Linked DNA regions of Homo sapiens. The protein of the gene in region 3 purifies or fractionates together with the protein of the main gene of each other region. This does not show direct contact. Each region holds a gene or a part of one and is shown on either strand. Other genes may lie near its edges.

Region 1 (3,868 bases), on a different chromosome or scaffold from region 3:
TAAAGCCTACTCTCGATGGCTGTAGCACTGCAGTCATTATGTTGTAATAAATAAGGCTCTGCTAGTAGAGCCTAGACACTGGGAATTGTAATTGGTCCTTTTCTAATGTGTGTAGCTGTGGTAAAATTGAGCCCTTATTCAAGTTCTTGTCCTTTTAATTGCATTTCAGGTGGATTCTTTTGTATGATGACTTATAAAAGCTGATCCCAATTATGGATCAGTGGTTTCTAACGTTGGTTTTGTGAAATGTTATGATCTGTTATCTAAAAGGAATTTTTTTTTTTTTTTGCTTTAACATTGTAATTACCAAACGACCTCTGTTTGAGAGAGGAACATACAGAGGACCAAGGGTAAGCTGTAACTTGAAACTTACATAAAACTTTTTAGTTACCTGTGGTGGTTAAATACTTCATGGTTTTGGACTTACTCCACATTTTGAATGTGTTAATTCAGCAAACATTTATTTTAAGAGTACTTAACCTACTCTGTGCTAAGCAGTGTGCAAGATATAGTAGGTAACAAGACATGAAATGACTCACTTCATTTTATTTACCATTTAGCAGGAAAGATAGGTGTTGAAGTCTGGGAACATCAGGAAACACTTCCCTGGTGTAATGTTTATCTCAGCTTGGAAGGATGAAGAATACTTTGCTGGGGCAAAAGGATGGGATTGGAGACCTGTGAAAGCGTTATAGGTTTGGTGAACAGATTGTATGGAGGTCCTAAAAATGGACAAAAAAGATATGTTGGAGGAATTGAAAGAAATAGAAAAAAGCAAAGGAGAAGAATGGCAGTGGAAAGCTCCAGAGATAGGAGCCAGATCACACAGGACTTTGTTGAGTCATGTTTAAGACTTTGGATGTTATTGAAGGATAGTGGGAAGCCAGTGAAGGGTTTTAGGGCAAGAGGGTTTTCAGATGGATGTTTAAAAAAAAAAAAAAAAGCCTGGCTGTGTTTTCAGCGTGAAATAGAAGTCTGCATATCTGTATTTACTGTTTCATAACTTCTGTACATGTATCAGGGTTCTGAGTTTCATAAATTATTGAAAATAATTTTCAATGTCTTTTTCATAAATTGAGAATTTTGAACTTTATTAAAATTGTCATCTTGAAATGCTTAAGATTGATGTTTTGTTATCTCAAAGATTTGCTTAGTCATACTTGCCAATAATATGAAACTAAATGTTAGTCTTTTTTCTAACATTTCGTTTTGATGATGAGAAGTCCTGAAAAAAAAATTAAGCTCCTTTGTTGTAGTAAACTTTTAAACAAACAAAAAAAACAGAAAACACTTTCTACTGTATTTAAAACTTTTAGGTGGACTTACACATCAAAGTCATGTTTTTTTTTTTTTCCTGAAGAGACACCTAAACATCTAATGAAACTTTAATTTTTTAGAAAATAAAATTGAGGGGCAGGTGGATGTAATGACGTACTGAGGTTTTGTGAGTTGAGTAGTAAAGAACAAAATGCCTAGTGTTGTGCTTCTGCCACTGTGTAGTGCTGTGGAGGAAGTGTGTGGTGGAAGGAAGATCTCTGTGTCCAGATCAGTATTCAAATCTCACTTCTGCCATTTATTAGCTGTCTAGGCAAAGAAACCTCCTCTTTCCTTATTGGTATAATAGGAAGAATTACAGTATTTCCATCTATAGTTGAAAGGGTTGAATGGGACACATGTTTGTGAGCCTTGCCCTTCCCCTCCTTTCTTAGATATTGGTTGATTAAACACAGATAGGCTACATTACTACTGTTGCTACTGTTAGAATTATCACCAACACTCCTGCTGTGACTACCACCTAAACTGTATGCATTGTTGTTAAACATTTTGTATTATTGTACTTACAAGTTTTATGAGGTAAGCATTGTTATCTCTCCATTTTGCAGGTGATGATACTGAGGCACTGAAGCATGAAGTTATTTGCCCACAGTGATTTAAACTAAGGCTTTTTGACTCTAGAGCTGTGTGCATATTCTTAATTTACTACTACAGAATGCAGCATCCTAGTGTTTTCTGTTACTGCATATACTTTTTTACTATGACATTTTGATAGTATTGGCTACTATTGTAAAAGAACAAAGTTCTAAAGCATCGTGATTATCAGTGCTTTAGAGTTTAAGAAATAAACATCTTTGTGGTTTTTGTAGTATTTTTCCCCTTCACCTGTACTTGTTACTACACCTTTCTCACCACATTAAAATTTATTTTTGTTCGTGTCTGATAGGAAGAGTTATTCTTTTGGGTTGGCTAAATGATCTTTTTACTCCTGAACTTTTGAGTATTTTTGATTCCTTTGACCTTTCCTTTTCAGTTGGCTTCTTTTGGCATAGTAAGTCCATTTCCCATTCTTTAGGAAAAACTCAGCAATAATAGCAAAAAACAAAACAAAAGATAAAACGCTTCTAGTCACTTTCTTGCTAGCTTTCTGTTCCTGTCGCTGGTAAATCTTGAAGTAGTAGTCAGACTTTTAATTTTTTGTTAATTTGCCCTCAGCCATTTACTTCTTAATGTCTTGGAATAGAATTTCTTCGTTGTAATATAATTACAACCAAAATTACTTACCTCAGTGTTACCAATCAATTTATATTTATTGCCTGAAGTTTTATATTTTTTGCCCTATGCGTGTATAACATCAGTGTTGATGCCACCTTTTTAACTTACTTGCCTTGAATCCCTAATGTGTTGGTTCCTTTTCTTAAGTCAGTCTTACCCTCTTTTGTTCCTTTTCTTCAGATTCTAATTGTATTTTTCAGTGTTGTTACATTGACATTTTTTTCTTCATCCATTTTTTACTTCTGACATTTCATTAATTACTGCTAAGATTTGAATGTTTGTCTTCTCCAGAATTCATGTTGAAATTTAATTTCGTTAAGTATTAAGAGGTGATTAGGTCACGAGGGCTCTGCCTTTGTTGATTGGATTAATGCCTTTATAAAAGGTTAGGTTTTGCCTCTGCCCCTCTGACTTCTGCTATGGGAGACCTCTGACTTCTGCCATGGGAGGAACTCCGGAGGATGCAGTGTTCAAGGTCTATCTTGGAATCAGAATTGCCAAACCTGCCAGTACCTTGATATGAGACTTCCCAGCCTCCAGAACTGTGAGCCAATAAATTTCTTTATAAATTACCCATCTTGTGGTATTCTGTTATAGCAGCACAAACGGACTAAGACCTTTCCCATGAATGGTTTTCTTTGTAATACATGCCAGTGGTTCTTAAAAACTTTTTTTGGAGTGTATATTGTAGATCCTTTAAAGTCTGATTAAAGACTGTCTCCCTAGGATTTACAAATACATACACATTTGCATTGAATTTCAGAGCTTTTCACTCTGAGCTTGTTAATGGATTCCAAACTAGAACCTCTACTCTGCATTTATTTTCACATAAGTATGTTTAGACTTAACCACTCTTCACAGTCTTAAGCTTTTATCTCTAATTGCTGGCTGTATATCTGCTTGGATCGCTCATCTAAACTTCAAACTAATTTCTGAAAAGAAGTGTTTTCTGGATTCACTTATTTTAATTTCATTTCTCCAAATTATGCTGGCTTGAAATTTTTTGGCTTCTCCTTCCTCCCATTCACTTAGTCATGAGGTTCTCTCTTAATAATCCTTACTGACATTGCTTAGTAGGGGGCTCACACTCCGTATCTAAATGATTGCAGTTTGCTTCCTAACAAATCTGTTTTTATCTCTAGGCCTTTCTCCCTTCCAGTTCTTCTGACATGGATGCCCAGCCTTGTTTGTATCCCATTGCTTGATCAAAACCTTCAGCATTCCCAGATAATAAATTGCATACTTTTTAGCTTGCCTTTAAGAAAGCTAATGATTTGCTTTAAATTATCTTTTCCATTTATATCTTTCTACTTTTTAT
Region 2 (3,868 bases), on a different chromosome or scaffold from region 3:
GCCGCGGGAGGGCAGGGCGTTGGGTCCCAGGTGGAGGGCTGAATGGGGCGATGCAGCCGGGTGTTGCAGCACAGTGGGGTGGGAGGAAGTGGGGCTGGGGGCGCTGGTCGGCTGTACCCCGTTAGCCGACACCTGCTGCACGCCAGGACATGTGGATTTCATCCTGGTGACAGGGAGCAAGCAGAGACCCATGCGGTCCCTGGTGGCCACAGTGAGGTGGCCGGATGGTGGTTAGGTCGTGGGCTTATCTGGGAGTGGATGGTAGGGGTGGCTTGGACAGTTGGCGGTATCCCCTGGTCACTTGGGGAGGAGGGGTTGGGGAGGTGTCCAGCTCTGGGAGGCCAGCAGGGTCTGCTGAGCCCTAGGAGGCCAAGGCTTGCAGATGGCGTGGTGGTTGGGGTGAGAGGCTCCCCACTGGGTGCAGGTTCAGCCCTGCTCACCTGGCCTGCTCCCTCTTCAGGCCTCTAGTAGAGTGGGGCATAGGCAGGGGATGGGGGAGGTTGCTTCCTGCTGGTGGGGCCTTGCTCGGCGCCCCCCGGACTCCTGCCAGGAAGAGTGGGTTTGGGAGGCCACCAGCTTCACCGGCTGACCATTTCGGAGTGCACAGCTGAGGGGCTGCTGCGGTCCTGCCTCACTAGAGGGAAGGGCGTAATTGATCTCGTCGTTTTTTTTTTTTTTTTTAATGTTTTTAGAAACAGGGCCCTGCTTCCCTCCCAGGCCAGAGTACAGTGGTGCAGTCACAGCTCATTGCAGCCTCAACCTCCTGGGCTCAAGTGACCCTGCTGAATAGCTGGGACTACAGGTGCATGTCACTGTGCCTGGCTAATTTTTAATTTTTTTGTAGGGACAGGGTCTTGCTTTGTTGCCTAGGCTGGTCTTGAACTTCTGGGCTCAAGTGATCCTCCTGCCTTAGTCTCTTAAAGTGCTGGGATTACAGGTGTGAGCCACTGTGCCCAGCCAAACTCATAGTTAAAGACCAACGTGAGGCTGGGCGTGGTGGCTCATGCCTGTAATCCCAGCACACTGGGAGGCCGAGGCGGGTGGATCACCTGAGGTCAGGAGTTCAAGACCAGCCTTGGCAACATGGCAAAACCCCGTCTCTACTAAAAATACAAAAATTAGCTGGGTGTGGTGGCGAGCGTCTGTAATCCCATCTACTCGGGAGGCTGAGGCAGGAGAATCACTTGAACCCAGGAGGCAGAGGTTAGATCGTGCCATTGTACTCCAGCCTGGGCGACAGAGTGACATTTTGTCTCAAAAAAAAAAAAAAAAAAAGACCAGCGTGGCGGCTGCATGGAGTGAGAGGAGAGGGTCCTGTCTGAGGAAGGGGTGGGGAAGGCGTCCCACTCACTTGCCCACCACTGGCCCAACTGGCAAGCGTGGTTGAGTCACTGTGCCTGGCAGCCTGCCGGCTCCTGGGGATACTGCAGTGAAGGTGAAGAGATGATGAGGCTGGAGCCGCCTTCCAGTGGTGGAGACAGGCAGCCACTGGAGTGCTTGTACATCAGCCAGGAAGGTGCTCCTGGGTGGAAAATGCCTTCTGAGGAACAGGCAGGGGGAGAGCACAGGGCCAGCTGCAGAGAGGTGGTTGGCGAGTGGGAGGGCTTCTCTGAGGAGGTGACCTGAGCAGAGAGGAGCGAATAGGGCTCAGCTCTGAGGCCGAGGTGGAGGTGGGAACGAGCTTACTGTGTTCTGGAGCACAAGGAGGCTGTGGGGCCAGTTCACCATCTGGGAGTGTGGCTTGGAGGGGATGCAGCCAACGGGGCAGAGGGACCAGGTCCTGGGAAAGGGTCTTGTAGGCCACAGGAGGGAACGGGGGGTTGGTTCTGGTTACGTTGGGAAGCCAGGGAGGGACAGGGGAGGACCCTGGGAGGGGCGTGTCCAGGGCCCCGGGGTGTCTGGCAGGCCCGAGTGGGCAGAGTCGGGAGGACCTGTGCGTGAGGCCACTGACGCCAGGCCAAGGAGCGGAGTCCGCAGGCTCTCAAGCAGGCAGGGAGCCCGTGGAGATGTGCGCGGAGGTGAGAGGCCGAGCCTGCGTCCTGGCCTGGTCACTCAGGCGGCTGACCCCAGAGACAGCCACCGTGAGACTCCAAGCTGGCCGCAGGGGAGGTGGGCGTGGCCAGGGCGTCTGCTGAGGAGATGGGAGGCTGGGGCCCAGGAAGCTGTTGAGTGGCTCCCCCAGGTGCCCTCCTGCAAGGCCCACCGTCTCCATGCCTGCCTGCCTGCCTAGGAACTGAGGCCTGCCTGTCCTCTGCCTTGGCCAGTGGGCTTCTGGGCAGGGCCCAGCTTTGTTTCGTTGAACGCTGCAGTGCTCTGGTGAGCCAGTGAGCCCTTCCCAGGCCCTCCTTCAGCCCTCCCGGGTGGCCAAGGCCTCCATCGGCTGGGGTGTTCGTTCCTGGATGCTGGGGTCGTGTGGGCTGTGGATGGGGCAGCCAGGTGGGACTGCTCCTTCATTTGGCTGTTGGGAGTTTTCTTTCCCCATTTTCTGCCCAGCAAAAGCTTAGTTCCAGCTCCACCTCTCCTCTTCAAGGAGACGGCAGTGTCCCAGTGTCCAGCTGGGGACGACTGCCCTGTGGACTTATGCACCAGGGACAGGGGCTTCTGAAAGCTGCCAGGCAGCCCTGCTGCCGCCTCCCTCCCCCGCCGCACTTCAGCCTTGCCGTGCGGCCCAGTGGCCAGCAGAGGGCATGCTTGCCCCTCCTATCGCCTCCGTCCACCCTTTTTTGGTAATCGCGTAATTTCCTTTTTATGTGAAAGAAAGCAGATACCAAGTAATTTGCAGCAATAACCTGCTAATGCTGGGCCAGTATCGAAACTCCCCTGTTCATTTCAAGTGGCAGATAAAACGCTAATACATAATTATCCTTGCAAATTGGATTATTTTAAATAACCAAAAGGCTACGGCCAGGAGAAAGCGATCCCATCTCCCCTGAGTTACTATTGCAGCGTAATTGCCGCGTTCAATCAATTTCCCTGGCATTAGAAATTCCGTCACAATCAACATTAAGCTTTATTCATTGTGATGGCTAAGAGCCGGGCCATTTCTCCTCTTTTTCTTAACTGGCAAAATTAATCAGGGAAAAGATTTTAAACATTTACCCGTGCGAAAGAGGTCAGCCCTGCCACTATATTGCTCAGCAGATAAGGGGGCTAATAAAAAGAAAATTGAATTACTAATGATCACCAAGAACAGAGTATATAAAACCTGGCCATCGCCAGTTCAGGAAAAGGGAGAATCAATTTTCTTGGGACAAGGTGCGTTCATTTTTTATTTTGGCGCATATTATCAGCAATTTAATTTGAGAGGCATAAACAGGAGGAAACAGTTAGGGAATAATGAGCCTGGAGGTGTAAAGTGCCACAGGATATATGCTGTACACAATTTATTTGGCACAACAGATAATCGCTTTAATTGAATTCAAAAGTGCATTGTTCAGCAGCACTGTGGCCGCTCACGCCTGGGGACTGAGACTGTTTGGAAGGTTTCAGCCTGACTCTTCGGTGCCTCTCCTCCCCTCCCTGCCTCTCCCGGCCCTCCGAAGTCCTCTGGGCCTGGAGTCAGACCTCGGCTGGGGGCGGGGCAGGGGATTCCTGGGGGTCTCTTCCTCTGCTGTCAGTGTGCCCCTTGCCTTCCGTTTCTTCCTTCCCTTTTCTCCTGGGGATGGGTCTGTTGGCAGCTGGGGGATGAGGATGTGAGACACTGGCCGGGTGCCGAGGCTCATGCCTGGAATCCCAACACTTTGGGAGGCTGAGGCGGGTGATTACTTGAACCCAGGAGGTCAAGACCAGCCTGGGCAACGTGGCAAAACCCCATCTCTACAAAAAATGCGAGAATTAGCCGGGCATGGTGGCACACGCCTGTAGTCCC
Region 3 (2,942 bases):
CCAGCTCAAGGTGAGGCCGGGCTTCACCCAGATCGCCGGGGTGGCGGCAGGACCTGAGACCGGGGCTCACCTCTCCCCCTCTTCCCTCCCACAGTTCCGGAAGAAAAAGCTCAAGTTCTGCAAGAGCCACATTCACGACTGGGGCTTGTTCGCCATGGAGCCCATCGCGGCTGACGAGATGGTCATCGAGTACGTGGGCCAGAATATCCGTCAGGTAGGCACCGCCCGGCAGGATGGGCACCGGGGTGGGCATGGGGCCGGCCCAGCCAGACTGACCCCCTTTTGTGGCCAGGTGATCGCAGACATGCGGGAGAAGCGTTATGAGGACGAGGGCATCGGGAGCAGCTACATGTTCCGGGTGGACCATGACACCATCATCGACGCCACCAAGTGCGGCAACTTCGCGCGCTTCATCAACCACAGCTGCAACGTGAGTGCCCAGCGGGGGGTGGCCCCTGCCCCTGCTCCTGCCCCTGGCCCTGCTTCTGTGCCAGGAGGGCCTGGAAGCCCCGGCACGGGAATCAGCTCGGCCTCCTTCCCAAGCTCAGGTTGGCCAAGGGTTATAGGGAGAGGAGGACATGTGAGGTCTTTTACCAGGAGCTCTACTCCTCTGAGCCTCAGTTTCTCATCTGTCAAATGGGCATAGTGAGACTTCTGTGGCATTTAGAGGACTCAAAGAAGTGGTTGGTTCAGTTCATTGGTAATTTCGGAGTTATTTCTCTGCGTTAGCCTTTTCTCCGTGCCTTCATTGGTCAGGCTCAGTCCTGCTCGGGCCGAGCTGTCCACTAGAACTTTCTGCAAGGGGGAGGTGCACTGCGTGCATCTGTGCTGTGGGTTAGCCACATGTGTGGTGGTGAGCACTGGAAATGTGCCCAGTGCATCTGGGGACCTGAGTTTTAAATTTTATTTCATTTTGATGAATTTAAACTTAATTAGCTTGTGACGACTGTATTGGGTGGTGCAGGCCTAGAGGGGAGGGACACTGATAACAGGGATTTGAGTGCTGAAGGAAGAGCACAGGAAGCTCTGAGCAGGAGGCAGGCATGTTCCGGGGTGGATGCCCCTGACTTTGGGTTCAAGTCTTGGCATTGCAGCTTAGTGAGTTACTTAATGTCTCTTATGCCTGAGTTTCCTTGTCTGTAAAACAGAGACAATAACAGTCTCTCCTTTTAGGTTGTTGGGAGGGCCACATAGGTGGGTCACTGCACGTGGGCCATTTGAGTGCTGGCCAGGCCAGTCCTCAGCGCCTGCTGGCTCTCTTCGTTGTGACTTGATCCTTGCCTGGGTGGTAGGGACTTTCCTGTGAATATCCGGGGAGATCTGAGGGGTGAGAGGGAATTGCCCAGGGGAAGCGGTGCTGGGGCAAGGGGAACTGCGTGTTCAAAGGCCCTGGGGCAGTTGGGAGAACACCTGTTTGAGAGATAGCAAGGGAGGCAGTGGGCATGGGGTGGGGTAAGAGGATGGGGTGGGCAGGGCTGAGGGTGGCCAAGCTGAGGAACTAAGTTTCTCTGAGAGCCAAGGTCGCTGGAAGGTTGGAGCCATCGGGCAACAGGTTCTGCTATCCCTTTGGAAACGTTTCCCTGGCTGCTGGGGCAGGAGTGGATTTTTTCAGGGGTGAGAGTGGCCAAGGGGGCTGTAGCAGGCGGGTGAGCAGTGATGGGGGCCTGAGCGTGGCTGGTGGCCCCAGAAGTGGAGAGCAGTAGACACAACCAAGAGGCCCTTCCGGGACTGAACTCACCGGCCCTGGTTGGGGCCAGATCTGGACTGAAGGAGGCAGGGAGGCAGATGCTCTGGGGCCTGGGTGTGTGGTGCAGCGGCTGCCCAGAGCAGGAGCAGATCATGCTTTAGGTGTGAGCTAAGTCAAAGACAGTACCCAGGGCTGCCACTGGCAGACAGCAGGTAGTTGCATTTATGGGCTTGGAGGCCTTTACCTTTTCTGTAAAGGGCCAGATAATAAATGTTTTTGGCTTGGTGGCTCAGATGATCTCTATGGCAACTACTGAACTTGGCTATTGTAACAAAAGCAGCCACAAATTATATGCAAATGAATGGGAGAATGGATATGGCTATGTGCCAGTAAAACTTTATTTACAAAAACAGGCTGCTAGGGGCTATAGTTTGCTGACCCTTTTTTTAGAGCTCAGAAGTGAGACCTGAGCTAAAAATAGACATACATTTGGGAGGCACTTGTACTACGAATGGAAATGAAAGGCCTGGGAAATAATTTTTATCATCATTATTTAATATCAGAGGCAAGGGGTCACCCCTGGGGGTCGGGGGAGCCAAGGTCCAGAGCAGAGCAGTGGGCTGGGGGTCACGTGGCATGTCAGGCCTTAAGCACAGGCCTGGTTGGGTTTGGGGGGTCTGCAGTGGTGGGGGACCCTGGGGGACCAGGGGCTCATTCTCCCCCCCACCTTGCCTGCAGCCCAACTGCTATGCCAAGGTGATCACGGTGGAGTCACAGAAGAAGATAGTCATCTACTCGAAGCAGCACATTAACGTCAATGAGGAGATTACCTATGACTATAAGTTCCCCATCGAGGACGTCAAGATCCCCTGCCTCTGTGGCTCCGAGAACTGCCGGGGGACCCTCAACTAGGCCCCGGCACCAGACTCAAAGGATGTCAGCCGTAGCCCTGGGACTCCCGAGCGTGGAGCCCCTGGCCCCGGGGCCCGGCCCCCCGCGCCCGCCCCCATTTCAGGTGCTGTCCTCTACCCAGCGGCCATTCAGGGCCTGGCGCCCCACACTACCCCCTGGAGCCCCTGGCTCCGGCCCCTCCGCGGGAAAGGGCTTCTCTGTCGTTCAGCCCACGTCTCTCTCATTTTAACAAACGCCCCTTTCAGGATTTCTGTTTAACTCCAGCATCAGCTTCTCTCTCTCCGTCTCTCCTCCCCTCTCTCTCTTCTCTGTCTCTTCTCTCTCCCACCATCACCCTCGGCCT
Region 4 (3,868 bases), on a different chromosome or scaffold from region 3:
ACACCTGAAAATTGGTCACCACGAAACCACAAATGTACTAGCACCTTCTGTCATGGTTCAGACATCCTGACCCACTGCAACCCCGTGAGCATTAATCCTGGTTATTTCCCAGCACTGCACATCCCCACTCCCACCCTCACCCCCATGCTTAGATAATCCCTGGTGCATTAGAGCAAGAACCACCAGCCCCCACCACCGCCACCCACACACACACATTTACTTAGGCACAACTTTGCATGTTCTCTGAGAACCTGAATCCCCAGTGGGTTTATATCATGAATGGGATGGGGATCACAAAGGCCATTTAGGATTCTCAGTTTCCCCACTTACAGAGGCATAAATCAGGCTGTCAATTCACAGGGCTGCAGAAGATTTATATAATTTTGGGGGTTTATAGATAGATGGCTTTGTTTTCCAATAGAGAAGCCATAACGTGTGCTATTAATTTGAAATTTTGTTTTGATTAAGATGTTAACACGTAATGAGAAGTGAGCCAATATATTAAGCCTCAGCTGCAGTAGATGAGGAAAATGTATTAGGAAACCAAGAGTTTTTCCTCCTAAGTGATGTTAATAGCTATAGCAATTACTTAAATTTACTATTATTAGCTTGAGTTGGAGTTTTTAACATTCTTTTCACCTGTGTGAGATATTAAAAGGCAAACGAAGACAGAATTAAATATGTCTGAGGATGTTATTTAGTGTTGAGAAATGACATTAAGGGCCCAGCTCTGAATTTCAGCAGACCTGAGTTTGAAGCCCAGCTCCACGACTGGGCAGCAGCATGACCTTGATGTTGCCTGAACTTTAAACACTTTGGTTTTATCTTCTGTACAGGGGATCAGTAATAATGCCTACCTGGGACATTATTACTTTGTAAGAGAAGGAGGTAAAGCAATTAGCACAGTGTCTAGCACAGAAATAAATGTCAACTTAGCATTAAAATTAAGAGTGCTAGTGCTGTCATGATTATTAACAAGTTTTCTTTAAAATTGAAATTTTAAAACAAATCTGTTGGGTTTTTTTTCTTTAAAACAAAAAAATCAGGACCCAGATTCAAGAACATGGCATCATTATGTATACCAGCCCAAATATCTGGATCAGCAAAAGTCAGAAGAACTTGATAGAGAGAAGAAATTAAAAGAGGATAGTCCGAGGAAAACTCCTAATAAAGAGAGTGGTGTGCCCAGCCTTCCTGTATCGTTAACAAGCATTAAAGAGGAGCCCAAAGAGGCCAAGCATCCTGATTCTCAATCAATGGAGGAGAGCAAGCTGAAAAATGATGATCGAAAGACTCCTGTGAACTGGAAGGACTCTCGGGGAACAAGAGTGGCTGTCTCCTCACCCATGAGTCAGCATCAGTCATACATACAGTACTTGCATGCTTATCCTTACCCACAGATGTACGACCCCAGCCATCCTGCATACCGGGCTGTTTCTCCCGTCCTAATGCACAGTTATCCTGGTACGTGTTGTCGGTTCTGACTATATTGGAGGAAAGAGGCGATGTTCAAATATTAGCTGTTAAAAACTCAAGATAAATTAGAAGCTTCAAGAGTGACATTTGTTTTCCTTGTTTTTATGCTGTTTAAAGTCCCAAAGATAAAACTGATTTAATATAAGTTTTTTTAATGAAATGTCAAGAATCCTCAGCCATAGTTTCCATAGTCTCTGATGGTCTGCTATAGCTGTTAGGCTGACAGATACTTTATTGCCTATAAAAATATTCTAAGCACTTACTGTCATAATCATTATAGTTACTATTCCTTTCACTTAAGCGGACACGTAAATGTATGAAATGGCTATAAGCTCAATTCTGTTTATAACCTCCCTTCATCAGGATGAATTAACTGGGAGAAGAAAATTGGAGAAGCTAGACACAGTTTAATGATGATGTAGCCCATTCTTAATGTAACCCCCTATTTTAAGATCTCTTTGACTCTTATCCCAAATTCATGTAACCCAAATGATTTTTTTTAAAGATATAGCCTGTAACTTGATGTGGCATTTGTTGTTTATCTGCAGGGGCATATCTCTCTCCAGGATTTCATTATCCTGTTTATGGGAAGATGTCAGGGAGAGAAGAGACAGAGAAAGTCAATACCAGCCCTAGCGTCAACACGAAAACAACCACTGAATCTAAAGCACTGGATTTGCTCCAGCAGCATGCTAACCAATACCGCAGCAAGTCTCCTGCTGTAAGCCTCCTTTTGTTGTTATTTAAAAGTACTGTGATTTGGGGAGAAAGGGGAACAAGCTAGAGAACAGTCTTGAAATATAAATGGTTTCGGAACCCAGCTGTGATTTCAGGATGCTGTTTTATCCTAATACGTAAAGAATGGAGCGTTCAAAAGTAAGACGCTTTCACACATGAGAGAAAATTGTTAAAGCACGTATGGCAGTAGCAAGCTTTTCTGTTGCAAAATCTAGTATACCTTGCTTACCCAGGAGGATGGTTGTTAGGTGGAAATTTAAATTCATAGGAACCAACTTTTGGTGCAAAATATGTTTGATAAGACATTGAGGAATTAGGTAACAGAGGAGTATATTTTATATAATTTTGGTAAGTAAGTAGTTCAGAGGCTACAAACTGTTGACTTTTTGGGCAAATCAAGCTTTTCAAAAAATGTTTTCTTGCAGGATACCTTTTAAAAATCAGACATTTTACATGCAAGTTCAGATCACCTCTTTCTCTTAAGACAATAGAAAATCTGGGCCGGGAGTGAGCCACTGCCTGTAATCCCAGCACTTTGGGAGGCCGAGGCGGGCAGATCACCTGAGGTCAGGAATTCGAGACCAGCCTGGCCAATATGGTGAAACTCCGTCTCTACTAAAAATACAAAAAGTAGCCTAGTGGTAGTGGGCACCTGTAATCCAAGTTACTCAGAAGGCTGAGGCAGGAGATTTGCTTGAGCCCGAGAGGCAGAGGTTGCAGTGAGCAGAGATTGTGCCACTGCACTCTAGCGTGGGCGACAGAGCAAGGCTCTGTCTCAAAAAAAAAAAAAAAAAAAAAAAAGACAATAGAAAATCTGGTTCAAAATGACATGGCAGTAACTGATGGGAACTAGTAGCCCCATCTAGGCAGATGTGCTGCTCCCCATCAATGTGCATGGATATAAATAGAAGCTCCCTAATCTGCATCACTTATCTTTGTTGTTAACTTGACTTCTGGAGAGATTTGAGGTTTCTGCTACTTGTATTGACCCTTCATATTCACATCATCAGTGTTCATGGTTGGGGGTTCATCACGAGCAAAGCTGAGTGCCCGTGACATGTAATAAGGCACAAATTTGAGCCTTGTACAGTGTGAGGCTCATTTGCAAGAGTAAGTCATGTGGCTTAGGAGTGAGAGCTGTGTCTGCTGTTTTCTGGCCTTGACTCTTTGTCATGTCCCTTTAACTCTGCTGAAGTAATACAATGTCTGTGAAAGATGGCTCTTCCCCAAAAAAGGTGACTGCTCTAGTCCTAGAGACTGTTGTGAAGAGAGACTAAACAAAAATAGGATGGTGCTTGGCTAGGAAAGAGTTTAAAGTAAATTAAAATAATAGTATCTGCAATGTGTGTGAGTCTACCAGAAACTCTATAGAGAAACCAGAAAAGGGGATTTCTGAATCTTTTTCTGAGTCCTCCTTCTTAGTACAAGGATTTCTTTTAAGTGAGAAGTATAACTTTAGTTAAAGGGTGGTTAGGCTGTAAAGGTAGAAAGTCATAGGAAATGAACCATCCTTACCCCAAACTATGGTTTGGGAGGATGGGGCCTTCTCTTTGAGAGTTCAAAAATTGAGAGATTCAAAATGTGGGTGTAGGACAGTGATTTCTTGTGCTTTATATTGGCATATAACTTTAGAGCATGTTTTTTCAGTAGAACA

The links.
Region 1: the proteins of SETD1B (region 3) and RBM26 purify together in Homo sapiens (affinity purification with mass spectrometry; one large-scale study listed by BioGRID and IntAct). This does not show direct contact.
Region 2: the proteins of SETD1B (region 3) and ZC3H3 purify together in Homo sapiens (affinity purification with mass spectrometry; one large-scale study listed by BioGRID and IntAct). This does not show direct contact.
Region 4: the proteins of SETD1B (region 3) and ZNF608 purify together in Homo sapiens (affinity purification with mass spectrometry, with the first as the bait; one large-scale study listed by BioGRID). This does not show direct contact.

What each region holds. Positions count from the first base shown.
Region 1 is NC_000013.11:79,399,511-79,403,378, reverse strand, and holds part of RBM26 (RNA-binding protein 26), read left to right. Parts: exon of another isoform or gene 1-350; intron 351-3,868. UniProt on the Homo sapiens protein: May be involved in the turnover of nuclear polyadenylated (pA+) RNA.
Region 2 is NC_000008.11:143,531,093-143,534,960, reverse strand, and holds part of ZC3H3 (zinc finger CCCH domain-containing protein 3), read left to right. Parts: intron 1-3,868. UniProt on the Homo sapiens protein: Required for the export of polyadenylated mRNAs from the nucleus. Enhances ACVR1B-induced SMAD-dependent transcription. Binds to single-stranded DNA but not to double-stranded DNA in vitro. Involved in RNA cleavage.
Region 3 is NC_000012.12:121,827,641-121,830,582, forward strand, and holds part of SETD1B (histone-lysine N-methyltransferase SETD1B), read left to right. Parts: coding exon 1-10; intron 11-94; coding exon 95-214; intron 215-292; coding exon 293-430; intron 431-2,425; coding exon 2,426-2,599; 3' UTR 2,600-2,942. UniProt on the Homo sapiens protein: Histone methyltransferase that catalyzes methyl group transfer from S-adenosyl-L-methionine to the epsilon-amino group of 'Lys-4' of histone H3 (H3K4) via a non-processive mechanism.
Region 4 is NC_000005.10:124,641,840-124,645,707, reverse strand, and holds part of ZNF608 (zinc finger protein 608), read left to right. Parts: intron 1-1,046; coding exon 1,047-1,464; intron 1,465-2,024; coding exon 2,025-2,197; intron 2,198-3,868. UniProt on the Homo sapiens protein: Transcription factor, which represses ZNF609 transcription.